Homo sapiens: one gene and its partner. The protein of the gene in region 2 purifies or fractionates together with the protein of the main gene of each other region. This does not show direct contact. Each region holds a gene or a part of one and is shown on either strand. Other genes may lie near its edges. The genes, in order: ARHGEF17 and RERG.

Evidence for each region.
Region 1: the proteins of RERG (region 2) and ARHGEF17 purify together in Homo sapiens (affinity purification with mass spectrometry; 2 studies listed by BioGRID and IntAct, with this or other methods). This does not show direct contact.

Annotation. Positions count from the first base shown.
Region 1 is NC_000011.10:73,302,136-73,313,076, reverse strand, and holds the start of ARHGEF17 (rho guanine nucleotide exchange factor 17), read right to left. Parts: upstream 4,802-10,941; 5' UTR 4,439-4,801; coding exon 1,247-4,438; intron 1-1,246. UniProt on the Homo sapiens protein: Acts as a guanine nucleotide exchange factor (GEF) for RhoA GTPases.
Region 2 is NC_000012.12:15,216,995-15,227,488, forward strand, and holds the start of RERG (ras-related and estrogen-regulated growth inhibitor), read right to left. Parts: upstream 4,251-10,494; 5' UTR 4,201-4,250; exon of another isoform or gene 3,674-4,200; intron 610-3,673; 5' UTR 496-609; coding exon 435-495; intron 1-434. Other genes in the region: uncharacterized protein LOC124902886, read left to right, coding at 4,251-4,568. UniProt on the Homo sapiens protein: Binds GDP/GTP and possesses intrinsic GTPase activity. Has higher affinity for GDP than for GTP. In cell lines overexpression leads to a reduction in the rate of proliferation, colony formation and in tumorigenic potential.

The DNA of each region.
Region 1 (10,941 bases), on a different chromosome or scaffold from region 2:
CAGGGTTTATAATTTCCAGGCTTCTCACACAGTCAGGGAGCGCAGTGGGAGCGCAGGCCACAGTTGAAGTAACCACTGGCCATCGCTGAGCTCAGCTCAGAATCCACAGCCTGGAATCTAGCTCCCAACCCAGATGCCAGGGCATATGCCATCTGGATCCCATCTGAATCCACAGCCTAAACTCCAGGGATAGCTGAAGCCAGAAGGTAGAAGGAGGGGTCTCAGGGAGAGTGAGCCCCCAGGGCTGGGGGTCTGGCAGAAACGGGGTGCATCTCAGAGTCACCAAGAAGGGGGTAGAGTGGGGAAAAGATGCAAGCAGACAGGATGGGGGAACAAGAACCGACCCCCCAGACCCATAGAGGCAGCCCTGAATATGGGGCCCAGAACCACTCCTGACCTCTCTAAAGGGCCCTGGCTGCCCAGCCTCTGCAGCCCCCTCCCTGCCTCTATCCTCCCCTAGAAGCCCCCATCTAGAAGCTTTTTTCATCTGAGGAGGCTCTGGCAGAACTCAGGCCCCAAGAGTCCCCAACTCAAAACCGCAGGCTCCCCCAAATCTGCACAGTACCAGCTGGATGGAAACATAGGCACTAGTTTGTCCACCTATCTCCCCTGATTGGGGAGATTAAGTCACAGAGAAAGGCCAATGTCACACAGCAAGAACAGAACTGCAGTTAGAACCCTGAGCCCCCTCTGCTCCTCCATAAAGTAAAGCCTTGTACCTCCCCAATTCTCCCAGGCCCAGGAACACATCTATATTCTGACCTGTCACAGGAAAGCCACACGAAGAAGGGCAAACCCATGTCAACTGTGGCCCCTGAGCCAAACATCCTATCAAGGGTCTGGCCAACAGAGTAGCAAGCCTCAGAGAAAGGACTGAGCCTGCGCTGGGTGCCATCACACTCATCCCTCCAACAAAGAACCACACAGGGATTTCCAAAACCAGTCCCTGAGAAACATCCAAAGGACAAGATAAGAATCCTTTGTAATTACCACCCAGAACACCTGGAGCAGACAAGACCCTTTGCCATTAGCACCAGCAGAAAACTGAAGCTTCTACAGGGCCTGAGTAGACAGGAGCCCTGTGTCATTAACAACTCTTAAAACTGCACAGGCACTTCCAGGACCAGAAAAGCACCCTTGGCACCTGGGCACCTGACCAGTGAATACAATGCAAAAGGCTCCAACCGAAGTCGGTGCCCATGGCCCTTCTTTGGCCCCAATCTGAAGGCCCCTACAAAGGACTCACCACCTGTGGCTTGCTGCAGCACTTGCTGGCAGGGGTAGGCTCATCTGCAGGCCGAGCTGCCTCAGGGGGCTTGGCCTCAGCAGAGGGCGGTGCAGCCAGAGGCAAGCAGGGCATGTCCACTGGCACTGGGGCAGGGACCTCACCGGAGTGCAGGTTCAGCATGTACTGCTTGGTGACGTCCTCGAGCGATGGTGCCTGCAACGTGGGATGGGCTCGGGTAGGGAAGCCTATGGGTTCTGGCACAGCCACAGGGGGACCAACAGAAGTTGGTGGCTCAGGCACCACAATAGGCATAAATGTGGCGGGCACACTGGCATGGCGAACGTGTCTGGAGGAGGGCCGGGCCCGAGACAGGCTGCCAGTCTGGTCCTGACTGCCCTCGTCTCTCCGAAGCTCCTGGTGACTACTCCGAGCTGGGCGCTTCTTGGAGCCTCGGCGGATTAGCCTCGGGGACAGAATGTCAGCCAGCTTGGGGTCAAGGTGAAAGTTTCGGTGGGCAGTGGCAGGGGGAGGCAGAGCCTCAGGTAGGGCCCTTTCAGACTGTGCCCGGCTCCTGGTGGCACCAGGTTCTTCTGGCTCTGCCCGCTGCTCTACAAGGATGGGCTCGCTGCTGGATGGAGGCAGCATGGGCTCAACTTCTCGGATGGGCTCCCCTCCAGGGCCCTCGAATCCAGGCCCAGCCAGCTCCCCACGGCGGCTGGGGTCACTCAGGGATTTCTTCTTGGGGGCTTTGCCAGCAATCCTGTCGTCCACCACACGCCCCAGGGTGCCAGGCCCCTGAACTATGCTCTGAATAACCTCCTGATATCCCTTGCTCTCTTCACTGCCCACAGACCAGTCACTGTGACCACTGGTCAAGCCCTCATCCATGGCTGAGGTGGCAGGGAGCCCTGTCTTGGGGCTCAGTGAGCCCAGGAGGTTGCTGTCCACAGAGAACCCAGTAGGCTCTTCAGAGGTGGCAGCCCGGTGGCGCTGAGGAATTGGGTCACTCAGGGACCTGTAGGCCTCCCCTGCCTCCCCATTGCTCAATTCGCTCCCACCAGAACCTGAAGGTGGGACTTTGCGTCGTCGGCGGAGGGCACCTGGTGTGGGAGGGGTCTCAGGCGACACCAGGGCCCACCCGCCCAGACTGTCCTCAGTCCCAGGGCCATGGTGGTTCGTCTGGGCCGAGGATGAGGAAAGAGGTCGCCACATCCCTGTGGTACCCAGGCCGCAAAATGCTGCAACAGGAGGCTCAGGGTCTGCCCCAATGCCTTCATCTGTCAGACTGGACTCAGGGCCTGAGAGCTCCTCCTGGGACCGCTGCCCTCGGGTCACATCCCCTGCCCAGTCAGGGCTTCCAGGGGGGGCATCGCTTCCATCATCTTGTTGGGCACCCATGCGCTGGATCTTCTCAAAAACCTGGCGGGCCTCCTGCACATATTGGTCCTGGACGATGAGGGGCAGCGGATCCTCCTCGGCACCAGGGCCTGTGAGCAGGAGCTCGGAGGAGCTGGACTTCAGAGCACTGGTGCGGGGCAGGCGGCGGGCCATGGGCTTCTCAGAGCAGGTGAATGACTTTGCTCTCCGCAGAGTGGCTGTCAAGTCCTTGAGTGTGGGGCGCGTGCCAGGTGATGCTGGGGCTGGGATGGGTATGGGTTCAAGTTGCCCCACAGGGCCACCTGCGGATGGTGAGTCTCTGCCATCTAGGGGGTTGCTTCCACGGTCCCCGGAGCTCCCACCAGGTTTTCGGACCCTCAGCTCTGAAAGGTCTGAGCGCAGGAAACTGAGAAGCGTCAGGGTCTCTGAGGCGATATCTGGATTTGACAGGGACTTCCGCTGTCGACTCTTTTCAGGCTCAAATCCTCCATCCCTCAATGCCCTAGAGGTGCCTCCAGGTCCTTTGGCACGGGTTCGAGCCTGGGACCGCAGGAGCCCTTCCCCAGCTCCAAAGCTAGGGGAGCGGTACACGCCCCAGCCCCCAGAACCCCTACTAGACCATAGGTCGTCGTCCTTGAGGGTCTCCGTGCTGGAATAACGGCTGCTACCGCGGGAGCCTGCGGGGCTGGCCAGGTACGAGGGAAAGCTCACCTTGGCCACACGGAAAGCTCCTCCCACAGAGTCAGACATAGGCCGAAGTCCCTCCTGGGGACCTGGGACGCAGGGCGGAGAGCCACTACCCCACTCCCGGAGTCCTTCTTCTCTAGGGGCTCTTGGAGATGTTGGGGGCTCAGGGCTCCCAGAAACCCCTGCTGAGTTCATGCTGCTTAGATTTAACCCATCACTGTCAGGCCTGCAGTCCTGATCCAATAGGGAGCTTCCAGGCCTGAGCCCGGGCCTCCCTCCCCAGCGGTGGCCGCCCTCACCGTCTCGGTCGTCGTCACTGCCCGAGGAGTGGCCGCCGTGGTAGGCCGGACTCTGGGCTCCAGGCAGCTGCGGCGGGCCCTCCTCTTCCTCCTCGCTGGAGCTGGCAGCACGACTGCGGCTGACAGGATAGGAGGCGGCGATGGAGGAGGAGGAGCAGGAGGCCCGGGCCCCGGCCTGCGGTTGGGAGAAGATATGCCAAGAATGTAAACCATCCGCTGGACGCTGCGCCCGCTCCTGTTGCTGCTGCGGCCGGCGCAGCCTCCCTTCGGTCTCCGGCCCGGTCAGGGGCCGCGCCGAACGCAGACCCGCCAGGGGGAAGCATGTCCGAGGGGGTGGCGTCGGTGGCTGCCGCGACTCCCGAGCCGGAGGCTCCCACGCGGCACCGTCGGGGCTGGGCGTTCCTGGGGATTCAGAGTCGGCGCTGGGCCTCCTGGAGCCAGGACCGCCGAAGAGCTTGCGCATCTCGGTGACGCTGGGCCAGGCTCCTCGCGCTGGGCCCTCGGCCGCTTCTTCCGCGGCCGCGGGTAAGACGCCTCCGTCTCGGGTCCCAGCGGAGCCGTCGTCCAGACGCGGCGCGTCGAAGCGCCGGGAGAGCTGGCGAACCGACGGCGAGAGGCTGCGGAGCGGGCGCGGCTGCGCGGGGGCGGCCAGGGGCCCAGACGCCAGCTTGGACACGCGCCGAGAGGGCTGGCCCCGGGCAGCCGTGGTCGGCCGGCACGAGGCGCGTCGCCTCAAGCCGGGGGTGTCCGTGTCCTCCTCCCTCAGCCCGGGGCCGCCGCTCCAGCGCTCCAGCAGCTTGAACGAGACGCTGCGGTAAAGCTGGGGCCGGGGTGCCCCGTCCGCCATAGTGGCGTAACTCACTCCGGGGGGGCTGGCCTCGGGCAGCCGCGGCCAACCCCCCCTGCGCCCCCACTCCCTAGGAGCGCAGCGGCCCACGCCGAAAGCAGCGCACGGGAGTGTGGGAAGAGGACGCAGAGACCGGAGCAGAGGTTTCTCTGCCGCGGCTCAAGTTTCTGTGGCCACCGGCCGCAACGTCTCCATCCCGGGCGGCCCCTCCCGCCTCAGCGCCGACCCCCAGGCCCAGCCCCCGCCGCGGCTGGAGCGACCAGGGGCACCGCGGCACCGCCTGGGCGGGATCCCAGCGCTTGGTTCCTCGACTCTGCGTCCGCCTGCCCAACGCCCTTGGCTGCTCGCTCCTGGCACCCTTTTGTTGCAAATAAACTTTGCGGCAGAGGCAAGGGGGCGGGGGGCGGGGCCTCGCGCCCAAAAGAGGGGGTGGGCTCCGGGCGTGCGCGAGCCTGGGAACCGCGTGGTGGGAGGGAATCAGGGAGGAGCCGAAGAAGAAAAAGCCTGCTGGAGGACTTGCAGACTGAGGCGACCCTCTGGCCCTCCAGAGAGGTCCCTCGGGAGCCCAGCAGGCCGAGCTGCCCCCAGGGAGTCGCTGAGACACACACAACCGCTGAGCGTGCTCAGCTCCGCAGACTCGCAGCCAGGGCGCCGCGTCCACCGCGGGCCACCAGCCTCCGCGCGGAAACACCTCCTGCCCAGGGGCTCCAACATGGCAACCTCGGACTCACAAACTCTCGTACACACTGACACTCAGGTGCACGCAGACGCACACTCTCTGGGCCGGGAAAGGGGTGGGACTCGGCGCCAGGGAGAGCCCGGGGAGCCGCGGGCTAACTGAAGGGTCCGTCGCGCCCTACTCCCCGCCCAGGCCACGCCTCCTCCCCTTCCCTCCCCCTCCCCGCCCGCCCTCTGCGGCGAATTTAGCTGTAGCCACGCCCTTGTCCCCCCATCTCGCTCCCAAGCGCCCCGCCCATCCCACCTCCCAGCCGCCTGTCCGGCTCCGACCGGCCCCCAACCCGCCCAGCGTTGCTCCAGAAGTCCCACCCTTCACGACCGCGCCCCCACCCCTACTTTTCCAGCTGCCACGCCTTCCACCTGCCCCTGCAGTCTGGCGGCTCTTCTCCTGGACTCTCCGCCTGGATCCCCGAGCCTTTTCTTCTTGCTCTGGAGTACGCGGCTCTTGCGCCCCCTCGCGGCGTGATTTTCCCAACGCACGGAGTCCTGGACGGATAAAGCAGCACCCATCCCCCAAAAACGGAGAGTTGTGAAAACTTCCTTTCAGTCGTTACCTAATCCCCTTAGTCTTTTTCAGACCTTCGCAAAGCGCACTGCCCCTTCTTAGGCCTTATACACAAAAGGAGCTTCGACGGGAACGCCCTCGACTTCCCACTGCCAAACCTATACTCTTACCCGCAGCTGCTTCACCTTCTTGGCAGGAAAAGTGTCGGTTGTTTCTCTGGCTTCACGCTGATCCCTCGCTTGAGCTCCCCTCCCGCCCCTGCCTCCGTCTGAGTCTCACATTGTTCTCGGTATTGGGGCATCATCCCCTTCCGCATTCCCACCTGCCTCTAGATCCCATTCATCCTCCCGGCCCAACTAACGAATGAACGAACGAATGAAAATGTATGGAGTACCTATAATGTATGGGCAATATTATTTAACTTATTTTTTAAAATCCACAAACCACCCTTGGGGACAAATATTATTACCCCTTCTCTGTGGACCGTGAAGGAGAAGTAACTTTGACCACTATGCAAGTCAGGAAATAGCAGCTCCTGCTAAAATTCAGATTTCAGGGGCTTCAAACACCATGCTCCTCCAGCCAGCTCTGAGATGCACCCCCAAATCCTGATGAAGAAGGAGGTTCTCGTTCCTTTGAGCCCCCAGTCTCCTCCTTCTCCTCCTTGGGCCTGAGCTCACTCTCCTCAGGAACAGAGGATAACCTGGTCTGACCCATGCCCCTCCAGCGCTGCCCAGCCTTCTTCAGGCCTGGTCAAACTGCCCTGGCCCCTCCAACCCCCAGTAGCAAGGCCTCGGGGACACATAGTTAGGTCAGCAGTCTGTGCATTACCCAGCCAACCCCACTGCCACCAGGTCCAGCCAAGGAGATGTAGCTGGGCCAGACTAGGCTAGGAGACGGGGTTCAGAGGAGAGGGGCAGGCAGGAGGATAGGAAAGGATGGTAGACACCCAGGGATTGCCTGACTACCGAATGAGAGAGAGAGGACTCAGCCGGGACTCCAGAACCTGCTTGCTACTCATATACCCCACAGGATGAGGAGGTCACTCTCCACTCTCTGGGCAGCCTCTTGAGTTGTGGAATATCTCTGTAGCAAGAAAGTGCTTCCTCTCTGTGTTGAGACCAGCATCCAGGGAGTCCCTCACCTCAACCTCATCTCAGCTCTGCCTCAAGGGGGCCAAGGAGTAAATCTCTCCCTTTTCTCTAGGAAATTGATAAAAGAGAGCCCTGCTGGCCTGTGCCTCTCTGTTCGGCCTTACTCTGTGACCTTGGGTAAATCCCTGCACTTGCTGGTGTCTGAAAAGTGAGGAGTGGGGTGTCTGAAAAGTGAGGAGTGGTTCAGGTTCCCCAAGAGTGCCCTCTCTGGCTCTGGCATTTGATGTCAGACTCTCACCTCCTTTAGTATTTTCTTTCTGCTCTTTGGGGCAAGTTTTGGTGTGTGCTGTGGGGTGAGTTGTGGAGGGGTGAGTTGGGGAGGGGTGAGTTGTGGAGGGGTGAGTTGTGGAGGGGTGGGTTGTGGAGGGGTGGGGGACAGGACTCTCATCCCAGGAGTCACTCTCTCCCCCCATAATGATGACTCTTACTATCTGAAATTTGTACTTTTCCACCTCCCTGTCAGTTCTGGGACAGAAACCCTTATCCCATATCACAGATGGGCAAGTGGATAGAGAGGAGTGGAGGTTCAGGTCATGGGCTCCCAGAGTCCTGTGGCTTGGCCTTGAGGTGAGCTGGCTGGGGCCTTTGGCTCAGGAATCCCCTTGGTGGGGAGGGGGGTGTTTAAGGATCTAGACTGGGTCTCTGTCCAAAGGGAAGCTCACCCAATCTGAGAGTGGCTTGATTGCTTCCAGTGCTTCAGGAACCCTCCCACCCCCAGCTCCTTATGATCCAGTATAAGACAAAGTTATCTTCCATGAACAGAAGAGATCTGGAATTTTAATGGTGCTTGGTAATTATGTACAGCAATTTTTAGCCCCAAGAAGACTTATTTGATAGGGGGCTGGGAGCACTGGGCACCAGAGTGGAGAGAAACCCTACGCTGGGGTTTTGAAGCCAGGCTCACCTTCCGCAGCTCACCCCCTTTTCTCTGGGCCCCAGGCTCCTCACCTATGAAAGGGTAATGAAAACAATAGCCCATCTACCCAGTGAGTCATGGTGATCTAGTGAGGTGAGGACCGTGGAATCCCTTGGGGAAATCAAGATGGGAAGGTTTTGAAGGTCACAGGTCATGGCCAGTGATGGGCTTTGGTGGGCTTCGGGTACAGATAAGTCCCCAGCTCATGATATTTCAACTTAATGATTTTTTGACTTTATGATGATGCAAAAGCTATGTACATCCAGTAGAAACCATACTTTGAGCACACATATAATCATTCTGTTTTTCACTTTCAGTATTCAATAAATTACATGAGATATTCAGCATTTTATTATAAAATAGGCTTTGTGTTAGATGATTTTTGTCCAACTCTAGGCTATGGAAGTGTTCTGGGCCTGTTTAAGGTGGGTTAGGCTAAGCTCTGATGTTTGGTAGGCTAGGTGTATTAAATGTCTTTTTGACTTATAATATTTTCAGTGGGTTTATTGGGATGTAACCTCATCGTAAGTCGAGGAGCAACTGTACTTAAGAGGGAGAGAAATGATGAGTGCGGGGACAAGAAGCAATGAGCTCCATGAAGGAGCTGTCTTAGGGGGAAATCTGACTCTTCTGACTCCATTGCAAAGCCAAATAGAAACTATCTGAGATTGCCCCCTTTCCTATATAATTAGACCTTAAGCACACAGGATTAAATTCTTTATAATATTTTGATAATGATACATTCTCATCAGTTATTTAATTGGCTTTCGCCAAAAAACAAAACAATACAACTAGGACCTTTAAAATAATTCACATCTCATTATACAGTTCTTCTGCTCCCATCCTCCTGCTGTCCCACCACACAGAAAATCAGAAAATCATCATCTCAAATCCTGTGTTCAGCATTCTCTTGCTTTCCTTCAAACATATTCCTTCAAACTATATATTCCTTCAAACTATATCTTTTCATTTTAGTTGTTCTTAACTTTATAAAAAAAAAAAAGGCATCCTGCTGGACGTGGTGGCTCACGCCTGTAATCCCAACACTTTGGGAGGCTGAGGCGGGTGGATTGCTTGAGGCCAGGAGTTCAAGACCAGCCTGGCCAACATGGTGAAACCCAGCCTCTGTTAAAAATACAAAAATTAGCCAGGCGTGGTGGTGCATGCCTATAATCCCAGCTTCTTGGGAGGCTGAGGCAGGAGAATCACTTGAACCCAGGAGGTGGAGGTTGCAGTGAGCCAAGATCACACCACTGCACTCCAGCCTGGGCAACAGAGCAAGACTGTCTCAAAAAAAAAAAAAAAAAAGGAGGGGGGTTTCTTGCTTTACAAAATTTGTTGGGACTTCTTTTTTCTTAATATTAAGAAAAGATTTACCCATATTGTTGCATGCCTCTATACTCCATTCTGGCCATGTGGACTATTTCAGTGTGTGACTATATCACAGTGTGTTGATCCAGTGTCTTGCTGATGCACATTTGGGTGTTTCCAGGTGTTTGCTGAGCATTGTGCATGACTCCAGGTACACATGGACAGAAGTGCTTGGGCATAGGGCAGGCAATTGATCAACATTGGGAAGCATTGTCAAGCTGGGATCTAATTTCTCGTCTATGTTTTTTAATCATCTGTGTTTCCTTTTTTTTTTTTTTTTTTTTTTTTGAGACGGAGTTTCTCTCTTATTGCCCAGGCTGGAGTGCAATGGTGTGATCTTGGCTCATTGCAATCTCTGCCTCCCAGGTTCAAGCAATTCTCCTGCCTCAGCCTCCCAAGTAGCTGGGATTACAGGTGCATGCCACCACGCCCAGCTAATTTTTATATTTTAGTAGACACAAGGTTTCACCATGTTGGTCAGGCTGGTCTCAAACTCCTGACATTGTGATCCGCCCATCTCAGCCTCCCAAAATGCTAGGATTACAGGCATGAGCCACCACGCCTGGCCTTGTGTTTCCTTTCATATGAAGTGCTTATTTGTGCCTCTTGCTCATTTTTCTATTGGGTTATAGTATGTTTAGTACTTTATGAAATTTCTGCTCTAACTTTTCTATTCCTCGGTATCCCTGGTGGCTTAGGAAGGTCTAGTATTTTACAGGTAAGGAAACAGAGGCTCAGAGGAGTGAAGGTGCTTGGTCAAAGTCACAGACTCTGTTGCAGCCCTTCTGCACTGAGCTAATGCCTTCTGAGGCCTTCTGAGGCTCTAGGCCTCACTCAGATACATTTTCTGCCCCTCAACTAGGTCAGGGCCCCTCTGGTATTTAGCATTTCTTGGCCATGGACCATTCCAGGAGCTCATCATCTCCCTAGTGATACCTTCCTTGCCTGGGTCCTCTTTATGATCTGAGCTCTCTTCCCCAGCTGTAATGATCCAGGTCTGTATATGTTTCATTATTACCTGTCTCCTCCATCAGACTAGGGGCTCCCTGAGGGCCCAGCATGATGCTTGGCATATAGGAGGTGCCCAATAAGTATTGTTTACTGGATGAACTGTTTCCTTGTCTGCATCCCAAACCCCTTGGATTCTTTCCCAAGACTAGGGCCTGGACCTGAGCTCGTCTCAGAAACACAGAGTCAATATTCATTGAACAAATGAATGAGGGAGGAAGAGGCCAGCTTTGTCCATTGCTAGGACAGATCAAATGCTCCTGGGCTTTTCCTGTTTGGAATGGAAATTTCCCCAAGACAGTCACTGATTCCCGACTTTCTAGCTTCCCAATCCTTGCTCCTACCTCCCCACCCCCACCCCACCCGGGTTCTCTGCCCTCAACTGCCACCAGCCAACTCTCAGCAACAACTTTGTCCTGGAAACTCCATCCCTGGGCCTGGCCTTTCTTGGAATCTTTCTCCCTCTTCTCTTCTCCGCCTACTACCCCTACTTCCTTCCCTGAAACCTCTCACTCACTCACCCAGCTCCACTCTCCCCTCATACCACCATCATTCAGAGACCCCTGGGCTCCTGCCCTCCACGTCTGTGGCTCCTTCTCCTCAGCTCCCTAATCTTGGAGTTCCCAGAACGACTCCCCTCTTCCCACTCTTTCTTTCATGAAGCCCACCCACCCACTTGAGCTCAAGCCACTTTGGGGCTGACCATTCCCCAGGCTCTGCATCTTTTCTAAGCAGCCTTCCCGGTGTCCCTAGACCTTGTTGGCTCCTAGCTCCCACTCCAGCCTAGACCCTGGCCCCATCTCTGTCCAGG
Region 2 (10,494 bases):
TAGATTCACTTAAGCATTTTTAAAGCACCTAACACATGCTTGACACTGGACTGTTTGCTGAGAATATCAAAATGAATGAGATGTAAAATCAGTCCCTCAAGATCTCATACATAGAGAAAAGAACAAATATATATTTTTTAATTTCCATCATCTGATTTCTTTGGAGGTTGTTAAAAATCAGAATGCCAAGACCTCTGATATATCCTTTATCTTGTGTGTTATCAGCAAAGCTACTTCAGCATAAATAAGCAAAAGGATACGTAACAGTCGATTACGCAAAATAAAAGTTCTAGATGAAGAGACTTTATCTAAAAGAGTAAGAAATGAAAATAGGAGGAATACCAACTACTCACCTGCCCAATCCCAAGAAACAGTAATAAAGAAACACACTCACCCACACACACACACTATAACAACCACAACGAAAATCTTACCTGACTTGCCCACGCCTGCTCTCCCAAATATTGCCAGTTTGACCTCCGCACTTTTAGCCATGATGGGTGTTGGTAGACAATTTACTGTTGTTAAAACTAAAGCACTGAGTAAATCTTTTTGGTTCCAGTCTTTGGATTCACCATATCATTGTGAATCTTGGAAGAGTCCACAATCCTTAAACAAAAGAAATTTGGGAATTCATAAGTGACTGGAAAATGAATTAATATTTATTGAGCATCTACTATATGCCAGCCACCATTCACTTTTTCAACATTTTCTGGTTTGATCTTTACCACTATCCTGTGAGAAGTCTATGGTAACTTACTGTAAATGATTTAACTAATAAATGGTAGATTCAGGACTTGGATTTGGATCTGGTTGGTACTAAAACGTGCATTATCACACACAATAGCATTTCTAAAGTACTTCCTCAAGAAATTTTCTTATGAAGGTATTGATTCTTGATAGTAACTGAAAGTAAAAGTGAATACACACATTTACCATCTATCTGTAAGCATTCAGTGTACAAACACATGCAGTGGGGCAATGGAGAGAGTCACTTTTGGGCCTCTTCATGTCTCTTTGGGTTGAATAACATACATTCATATTAGTCAACTCCAATGCAACACAATTCAATTTTGCATCTCAAAGTTAAATTTTTTCTCAATTCACACTTGATCACATGATGAATTCCTGTGACAGATACAGATACACATGTTCTAGGAATCAATATATAATACATAGATTACATTTCTATATTTTGCTGGACACAATGCCCTGGTACAAAAACGATAAATGCCATGCTCCAAGTTATTCCTTTTCTATGATGACTTCAAGTAAATTTGTTTATAGTGCTGTCTTAAAGCTTGGGAAATAACATTATGTACAAAGTAAGCACATCTTATTTAGTTTGGTGCTTTAGGAGTGACATCTAGGTTCTTAGGATCATGGAAACGTAAATTTGGAAAGAGCTTTGGTGGTGGTGGGGGCTGGAGTGGGGGTCATCTGAAGAAATCTTCTAGCCATTCTTCTAGCAAGAATCTTTCCTTAGGACATAACAATCATTCCATATTCCATGCCTGACTTACCACTTCCAGGTATGAAAGGTGGGCTCATTACTTCTGAAAGCTGCTTCATTTCTCCAATTAGGAGGAACTATCTTTCTAATATTGAGCTCTAAACTGTCTCCCTGCGGCTTCTACTCATTTGTCCTCATTTCTCTCTATGAAATAACTCAAAACAAGTCAACTTTTTCTTTCACTCAGAACCGTTCAAGGATCCTAGCATCTAGTAGGACCCTTTGCTCCATCCTAGGCTTCTTTTTTCTAGGAACATGAGGCCCAGCCTGTCCACTTGTTCTTCCCGGAATGTACACTCTCGTTTATGTTTTTTTGACCTTCACTCCCTTTTTCATCATGTGCATTGCCTCCTCAACATCTTAATCACTCTAAAAGCATGGTGTCCACTGCATTCCACTTTGAGATATGACCTGACAAACTGACCCGGTGTAAATTCCCTGAGATTTTCACTATCGTTAATCTGCCCACCATGGTTATACTGTAGCACAGCCAATCACATTAAGCCTCACATCTTTTACACGGACTGCAGACCCCCTCATTCCGAACATTTGCAATCAATGGCTTAAACCTAAATACAGCACAGCACTTTTACCCGTGTTAATCTTAATCACACCAGTCTGCATAATTCATTCCATTTTCAAGGCAGTAAAGATGTTTTAAACACAAATATGTTATCTAAATGTGTTAAATGTTCCTGCCAGATTTTTCCATCTATAAATTTTTACAAAGAGCTTCTTGAGAGAGAAATTAAAAAGTGAAAATCCGCCTGAAAAAGTATTTCTACAAAGACATTATCATGTAATTGTTTTCTTCCTTAGGTATTTAAGCTATCATCCTGTACCTAATAAGGTTTTGTATTTGCTGATTTTCAAAGTGCCAGAGCTTCCTCTGAAGGAAGGAAAAATCAACATTAACATTAGCTATTGTTTACTTCATCCTCAATAATGACAAAGTGTCTAAGTAATCATTATTAGCAAAAACCAGAAGCTTAAACATCTGCAATTTGTCCAGTCCCATATTTTTGGCTAAAGATAAAAAGATTTCCTTATTTGTCACTTTAGATGCATTCATTAAGAAAAGGCCCTATGTTTTTAAGGTTCAGGGCTTCATCACAGAAACATAATATGTGGAGATATATTAACTATTTAAATTATAAATGAGAAGAGGTGCTGGCAAGTATTTCTTTGAAACATTGAACACGCAAGTGTCTGCAGCTAGTATAAACAATAATTTTGTTTCATGCAAAACTGTTCATATACATGGATATAAAATGCAAGTAATTATCTGTCTGATTAATGTTTCATGAAAGTAGCCATCAAATGTGATTTTAAAAAAATGACAAGTCACATTTTTTAGTAACTCCCAAATGGCCCCAGAGGCATAGGAATTTCACATAAGAAAGAGAAATTGTGTGGGCTATTTTTTCCATTTATAACCTAATAAAGATACAGCTGGTTATTGTCAACCTAATTTTATGTTTAGAAAAATCACTTAAAGGAAGACACAAAACTGACAGGAGTTCTTCAACATTTTATTTCTCACATGAAAATGTGAAAAGTTACATTTGACAAGATAGAAAACAAAAATAAATATGTAAATTGTTGTAATAAGTAAACTGTTGCCAAGTTTCTGATGTTCCAAATAATTCATAATCTGAGAGCTTCCATACGTGGATCTAAGAAAATCCATTTGTCCTAATGTTCTGCTGAAATATTCTGAGTAGGGCTGAAATTTGCCATTCACTTTTTATGTGGATGGTGCTTATTAGGACAAAAACATCTCAGCTGCTATCACTCTAAAGGTAAAATCATACCTATTTAGTTTGAAGGTGTAGGTTTTTTTTTCCCTAAACATAAATTAAAGGAAAAAGGAAAAACGCTAGCTAAAATCCTGTATTATTAGTGATGCATTCATTGATTTATTCCACACTTTCACGCTATGCACATACAAATAAAAGTAGTTCCCTTCGAAGAGCTTACACTCTGTTAGACCTATGATATTTAGATAACTGTAACCTTATTTACTTACTTATTTAAAGAAAGTTTTCATTCCTAATAAATCATTCTCAAGGCTATATTTATCAAGGTTCATGCTTTCTACTTCCTCTTGGGGGTGGGGCAAGCAAGCGTCTTTATAAGGTAATCATGCTTGGAACTTCTGTTTGCATGCGCTCATCAAAATCAAGTGTAGCTATTTAGGGAAGCAAAGACCCTAGTCTAGGCCTGGAAATGAGATTCTCTTCTTTTTTGGCCTCCCCTTCTCTGGTTCTGAAATCAAGTTTTCCTGGTCTCATTACTAGGAATTCTTCCTCTTCTTATCACTACGCAGTACCCACAGCAAACCAGGATAATTGTATAAGCCCCTTGGCTATTTAATGTTGCTCTGAACTCAACAGGTATCTTGCAAGAATAAACAAATCCATTGTGGACTGCAAGTCACTTGCTTTCAGGCTAGGGAGAAAATGCAGCCTTAAGTCAAAAGGGCATTTTCCCTCTCAGCTAGGAGAGCCCTGTCAAGATAGGCTGCTGGTGTTCACATCTCCCTCGCAGCGAACCCCAAAGCCGCCCTGGGAGGAGAACCCGGTGACCAAGAGGACCGACTCAGAGGCCGAGCGCGCTCAGGGCTCGGAATGGGTCTGCAGGAAGTCGTCCCGAAAGAGCTGCCTGGACACGTGCGTGACACTCACCTGTTCACACTCTCCAGGCCAGGAGAGCTACGGTCCTCTGCAAGTTCGGAATGGGTCCCCCAAGATCGCGAAGCCCTCCCACACTGCGCAGCCCAGGCTTCAGGTTGCGTTTGCGAGTTGCTGGGCTGCGGTCGTGGGTGGGACTCGCCGCAGAAGCAAGTGCCAGTGGCCCGGCGGGGGTCTCCTCACTCGCGCTCGCTCCGACTAGCGGCGGAGGGACTGCGGCAGGACGCGAGCTGAGCCCGGCCAAGGCCGCTGCGCTCAGCGGCCAGGATGCTGCAGTGCGGCGCTTCGGCGCCCCCTACTGGGGGCAGGGGCAGGCTCCTCCCGCCGCGCTGCCTCCCAGGCTTGCGAGCTTGGGTCTTTAACGTGCTGCACCCAAGACGGGCTTCCCTTTTTCACTGGTTATTTCCAAGCCTCCAGGCTCCCACCGAAGGGCGGCTTTCCTCGGTCAAAACCTTGCCTAAGAAAGCATCACTACGTGGTGTTTTCTATTCCTTATTTCAAATGATCCTCGCAATATCTCTTTGAAGTATCTTTAATTATCTCCATGATACCCAAGAGGAAACTGAAGGAGAAGGTAACGCAAGGCTAGTAAATGGCTGGAATGAAATCCAGACTGGATTGGGAACTGAGAGATGCTAGGAAAAACAAACAAGGAATTCAATTGAAATTCTATTCATATATTTGAGAAAGTTCCAAAAGCTTCTCGTCCTCCTTACAGGATCAGCATTTATAGGATTTGCATTGGAGTCATACTCCATTATGCTCAGACCCTAACAAAGACAATTAATATGCGAGCTGTGCTGGACCTGCTTTCATATCCCTCATCTGATTTGATTTTTACACCCTCTCTTCATGTAAGAACTAGTATTATAATTACTAGCCTTTCACAGATGAGGAGGTGAGCTTCAGAGAGGCTAAATGATCTCCCAAAAACTGAAACATCTGAGCAAAGAAGCAGGAGGCACTTATGTTATTGTTTTTCCCTTATAAATCTGGGTATTCTTACCAAGATACCAAACGGCTTCCAGAAAACCAGTGTTATATAGAACAGACAGGGGCCTAGGGCAAACTGAACGATCTGTAGAATGTCATCAATGGGAAGGGAGGTAACCATGGAGGCAATTTCCAGAGTCCAGACTGACCTGGAAGGTCACTGCAGCCACGAGTGAATGGCTGAATGGAACAGCTAGATCTATGGCAAAAAGAGGAGTTGCCTAGCTGAGCAGGAGCTGCCCTGCTGGTTCTTTGAGAAAGCTCAAACATTGTATGGTTTATGAGTTTCCTGATCACTAATGTACCCCTCCCTCCACACCACATACATCTGGATTAGATGCCTCCCTCTGTATCTCACAGGACCCTGTGATCTTATCATTGTGTTTGTGTTGTACTCATTTCTGCCCCTTAGTCCTCTCCATTAATCTGTGAGCTCCCAGAAGCCAGGAATGTACCATGTGTGACTTCTGTATTCCCAGCATCATCCATACAGTGTGTATACCTACAGCCTGGCATATAGTAGGTAGTTAAAGAATACCTACTGAATTGAATGAATTAAGATAAAGAAGAAGTTGTGATAGGATATGTTTGAGCTTTTTTACATACTGGATTTAGGATAGACCATCCAGTAAGAAATTGAATGTATGGGGCTGCGACATTTAAGAAAGAGGCCTGGAAAAGAGAGAGACTTTGGTGTCTTAGCATGCAGAAGATCTTTGAAGTCTGGGATGGGATAATAATTACCCAGATTCATTATATAGAATCTTACAGAATTCCAATTACATGGAATCGTGTGGCATTAAGGTGTTCAGGTTTCACATGTTACCTTGTTTCCCCCATTAAATCTTATACTCAGGGCAAGATTTAATAAAAAAAAAAAAATCTGTGACCCTATATCTGTAAATATACTATTTACAGAGACTTGAGTTGGAATTCCCACTTTGCCACTCTTATTTAATAAGAGTTATTGACCAGCCTGGGCAACATGGGTAGAGACAGCGTCTCTACTAAAAATACAAAAAATTAGCCAGGCGTGGTGGCACGCATCTGTAATCCCAACACTTTGGGAGGCTGAGATGGGCGGATCACCTGAGGTCAGAAGTTCGAGACCAGCCTGGCCAACGTGGTGAAACCCCATCTCTACTAAAAATATAAAAATTAGCCAGGCGTTGTGGAAGGAGCCTGTAATCCCAGCTACTCCAGAGGCTGAGGCAAGAGAATCACTTGAACCCCAGAGGCGGTGGTTGTAACAAGCCAAGATCGTGCCATTGCACTCCAGCCTAGGTGACAAAAAGAGACTCTGTCTCAAGAAAAAAATAATAATAGTAAGTTTTCGAAGAGGGCCCAAGCCAGGTCCCATTTGTAGTAGTTCTTTTGGAACTTGCCTATGGAACCTGATTCTCTCCATTTTCCTGCTTAGCCCATATAACAACAGCATTCCTCCCTCAACTAGGGAGGCATTTGCATACACATCTGCAGTTCTTGATGTGCTGCTCTAAGATAGATGAAGTAGCTATCTTGGAGCCTGACTCCCACTGTGTTACATCTTCCGTATGTATCCTATATTCTGCGGGCTGCTTCCTTTGTCTCTAAAGCAGCAAAAAGAGGCACGCTCTCTTGTGCTGCCTGCCTCATGGATCAGTAAGAAGGGCAGAGGACACTTTGTACTTACGGTTCCATGACATATGTTTGCTGGGCAAGAATTCTCCTGGGGAAAGGGGAAGTCCTTGTCACATTCAAGTCTCTTAGCCTGGCCTTAGGCTTCAGCTAAAACCTCTAACACAAAACAAGTAGACGAAGTGTTGATATAACCACAAAGCATGTTAGAAACTGGAATTGTGTGTGTGTATGTCTGTGTAGCTGTTAATCATGTTTGTTATAAATAATTCAAACAGTAGAAAAATACAAAGATGTAGAAAATCATCCCCAGAATCACACTATCCAGAAATAATAACCATTGTTAACATAAGGGGACCATCATCATTCCAGATATTGTAGAAAACAGACATCCTGATGGACAGGTATGTGAAATGGCACAGATATGCTAAGTGTCATCATCCTGTAGATGCTATTTTTAATTTAAAAGTACACTTAATGAAGCAGAAGATAACAAAATTAAAGTGAACATTAAAGGCTGACCAAACTTTAGATATTTACTCACTTCATGAGATAGTCACTTACTTCATGAGATATTCACCCTAAAGATTCCTTTACAGTTTGAATTATTACATAAAACCAGATCTGAATTCATTATGCTTAAACATATATTTGTTTTAGTCAATATCAACTGACTGTTTGCTATTTAAAAAGAAGAAAATAGCTCTTTTATTATGTCTCTTTTTTTCTTCCCTCCTTCTATATTTTTACACAGGTTTCGTTTGTTCATTGTCAAGATTTGTAACATTCACTTTCCACTTATAACTCTCATTCCCAAAGTGGTTTAAACTTAGTTCTATATTTAAATAGAATAAATTTCTTTCATTGATTCTTTTATCATGTTTTTTCTATTATTGATTATTTTGATTCATCCCTTGATATCTTCATTAAGCAATGTTTTCAAGAAGGTCTTGCAGGTGCTGTATTGTATAATTGAGAATACCTGTTTCTTCCTTTTCTTGTTGTTTTTAAATTTGTTATTAGCCTACTTTTGCTTACAATGACCTTCTCCTCCTTTTTTTTCCTGTGTAGTGTGTTTTTATATTTATTATTGGTTTCTTTTTTAGATCAAGACTCATATTTGCTATGATACAAATTCAGTTAATTGTGCTTGACTTCATTCCTACCTTGTCTGAGGCCTGTTTGTTTTTTCTATAAAGCAATGGTTTGAAGGTGAGCATTGCATTCTGTCTACCATCCCGAGATGAGAAGGTGAGGGCTTCTGAGTCTCTGTGCAGCCTCTGAGAGAGGTTACATGCTCTGCTTTTGTTCTCAGGTTTTACTAAAGACTCTGTCTCAGGATTTAATGCAGGCCATCAGGATCACATACTGTTTCAGAAAGATTCCCTTAAGCCTGAGATTGCACTCTTCATTCATTCTTGGAGCCCTCTACTCTCTCTCCCAAGCCATTTCTACTATGACTACTCACTCTGCCCTCTCCTCCCATCAGAAAAGGGTAAGTGTAGTTGCTCAGTTCATTTCACTCCAAATTTGCAGACATTCTTAACTGGTGAGAAATAATACTTACGATTTGATCACTCATCAGTACTGCTTCTGGAAAGCCAGGACTTTCTATATCATGATCGTTTATTTTCTTTATTTCATTTTGAAGTTACATGGCAAGAAATTATACTCATTTCCTTATTTTGTTGCTACTAATGATTATCTTTTGACTTTGGGATGAGTATTTAATTGCTGTTACCATTTATTTAGTTAAATATTAGGCAAAGGCAAGACTGATTTTAGCTGAGATTGAACTTTCCTGTTTACTGGGAACAACTATAAAGGCTAACCAAAATATACAAAATAGCTGTTTGGAAGCATTGGCAAACAACCAAGGCAGGGCTGCACATCTGACAGAGGGGATGTACTGGAGTTTAGCCTCACAGGCACACAAATTTTCTTGTTGGGGGCATTTTAAGGGCCCATATCCATGAAAGTGAAGCCCAAACATCAGTGAGAGATTAGGGTTCAGGGCTACTAAAGCAACTGGGTTCAGAAGGCTATCAGAAAGGGCAGCAGCCACGGAGACAGAAGCTCAGATATTTGCATGGAAATGTCCCTAGGATCTTGGCTAATTTCAGGGCTGCACATTGCGTGGTGAGTCTCTGAGACATCTGGTAAACATCATCACTGGCCATCAGAGAAATGCAAATCAAAACCACAATGAGATAACATCTCACACAAAACCACAATGAGATACCATCTCACACCACTTAGAATGGCAATCATTAAAAAGTCAGGAAACAACAGGTGCTGGAGAGGATGTGGAGAAATAGGAACACTTTTACACTGTTGGTTGGACAGTAAACTAGTTCAACCATTGTGGAAGTCAGTGTGGCGATTCCTCAGGGATCTAGAACTAGAAATACCATTTGACCCAGCCATCCCATTACTGGGTATATACCCAAAGGACTATAAATCTTGCTGCTATAAAGACACATGCACACGTATGTTCATTGTGGCATTATTCACAATAGCAAAGACTTGGAACCAACCCAAATGTCCGACAATGATAGACTGGATTAAGAAAATGTGGCACATATACACCATGGAATACTATGCAGCCATAAAAAATGATGAGTTCATGTCCTTTGTAGGGACATGGATGGAATTGGAAATCATCATTCTCAGTGAACTATCGCAAGAACGAAAAACCAAACACCGCATATTCCCACTCATAGGTGGGAATTGAACAATGAGATCACATGGACACAGGAAGGGGAATATCACACTCTGGGGACTGTGGTGGGGTGGGGGGAGGGGGGAGGGATAGCATTGGGAGATATACCTAATGCTAGATGACGAGTTAGTGGGTGCAGCGCACCAGCATGGCACATGTATACATATGTAACTAACCTGCACAATGTGCACATGTACCCTAAAACTTAAAGTGTAATAAAAAAAAAAAGGACTGAAAAAAAAAAGAACAGCTGCCTAAAGTCTGAAAGCTCCTGAATCCCAAGATGTGAATTACAGAGTTCTCTGAGTGCTGAGAAGACATCCGAGTTTCAGCCCAGTCAGCGTTCAGAAATCTTTGTGAAGTAGGAGTGAGGACCATTAATGCCTTAGGCAGAAGGGCTGTAACCTGGGACTAAGGGTGGATCTGAAAGACAACCCCCTACAACAGAGACTAAAATGAGACCTTTACAGGAGCAATCTAATCCACCAGCAAATTAACAGCCTGCCAAAACAAAATACAACACTCTTGAAAAAGTTAACAGGATCCAGAGCCTGTATAACCATCATCTACAATGTCAAACCTACTGAATTAGTCTGCTCAGGCTGCCATGACAAAGTACCCCGGAATGGGTAACTTAAACAACAGAAATATATTTCTCACATTTATGGAGGTTAAGAAGTCCAAGAAAGTTTCATTCTGAAGCCTCTTCTTTTGGCCAGCAGGCGGCCCTCTTTATGTGCTCACACGACTTCCTCTGTATGAGTGTGTGGAGAGACAAAGAGAGCTTTCCAGTGTTTCTCTTTATAAGGACATTCGTCTTATTGGATCTGATCCATCCTTATGACCTCATTTAACCTTAATTCTTTTTTGGAAAGGTTCTATCTCCAAATAAAATCACACTAAGAATATGGCTTCAACATATGCATTTTGAGGGCACACAAACATTCAGTTCATAA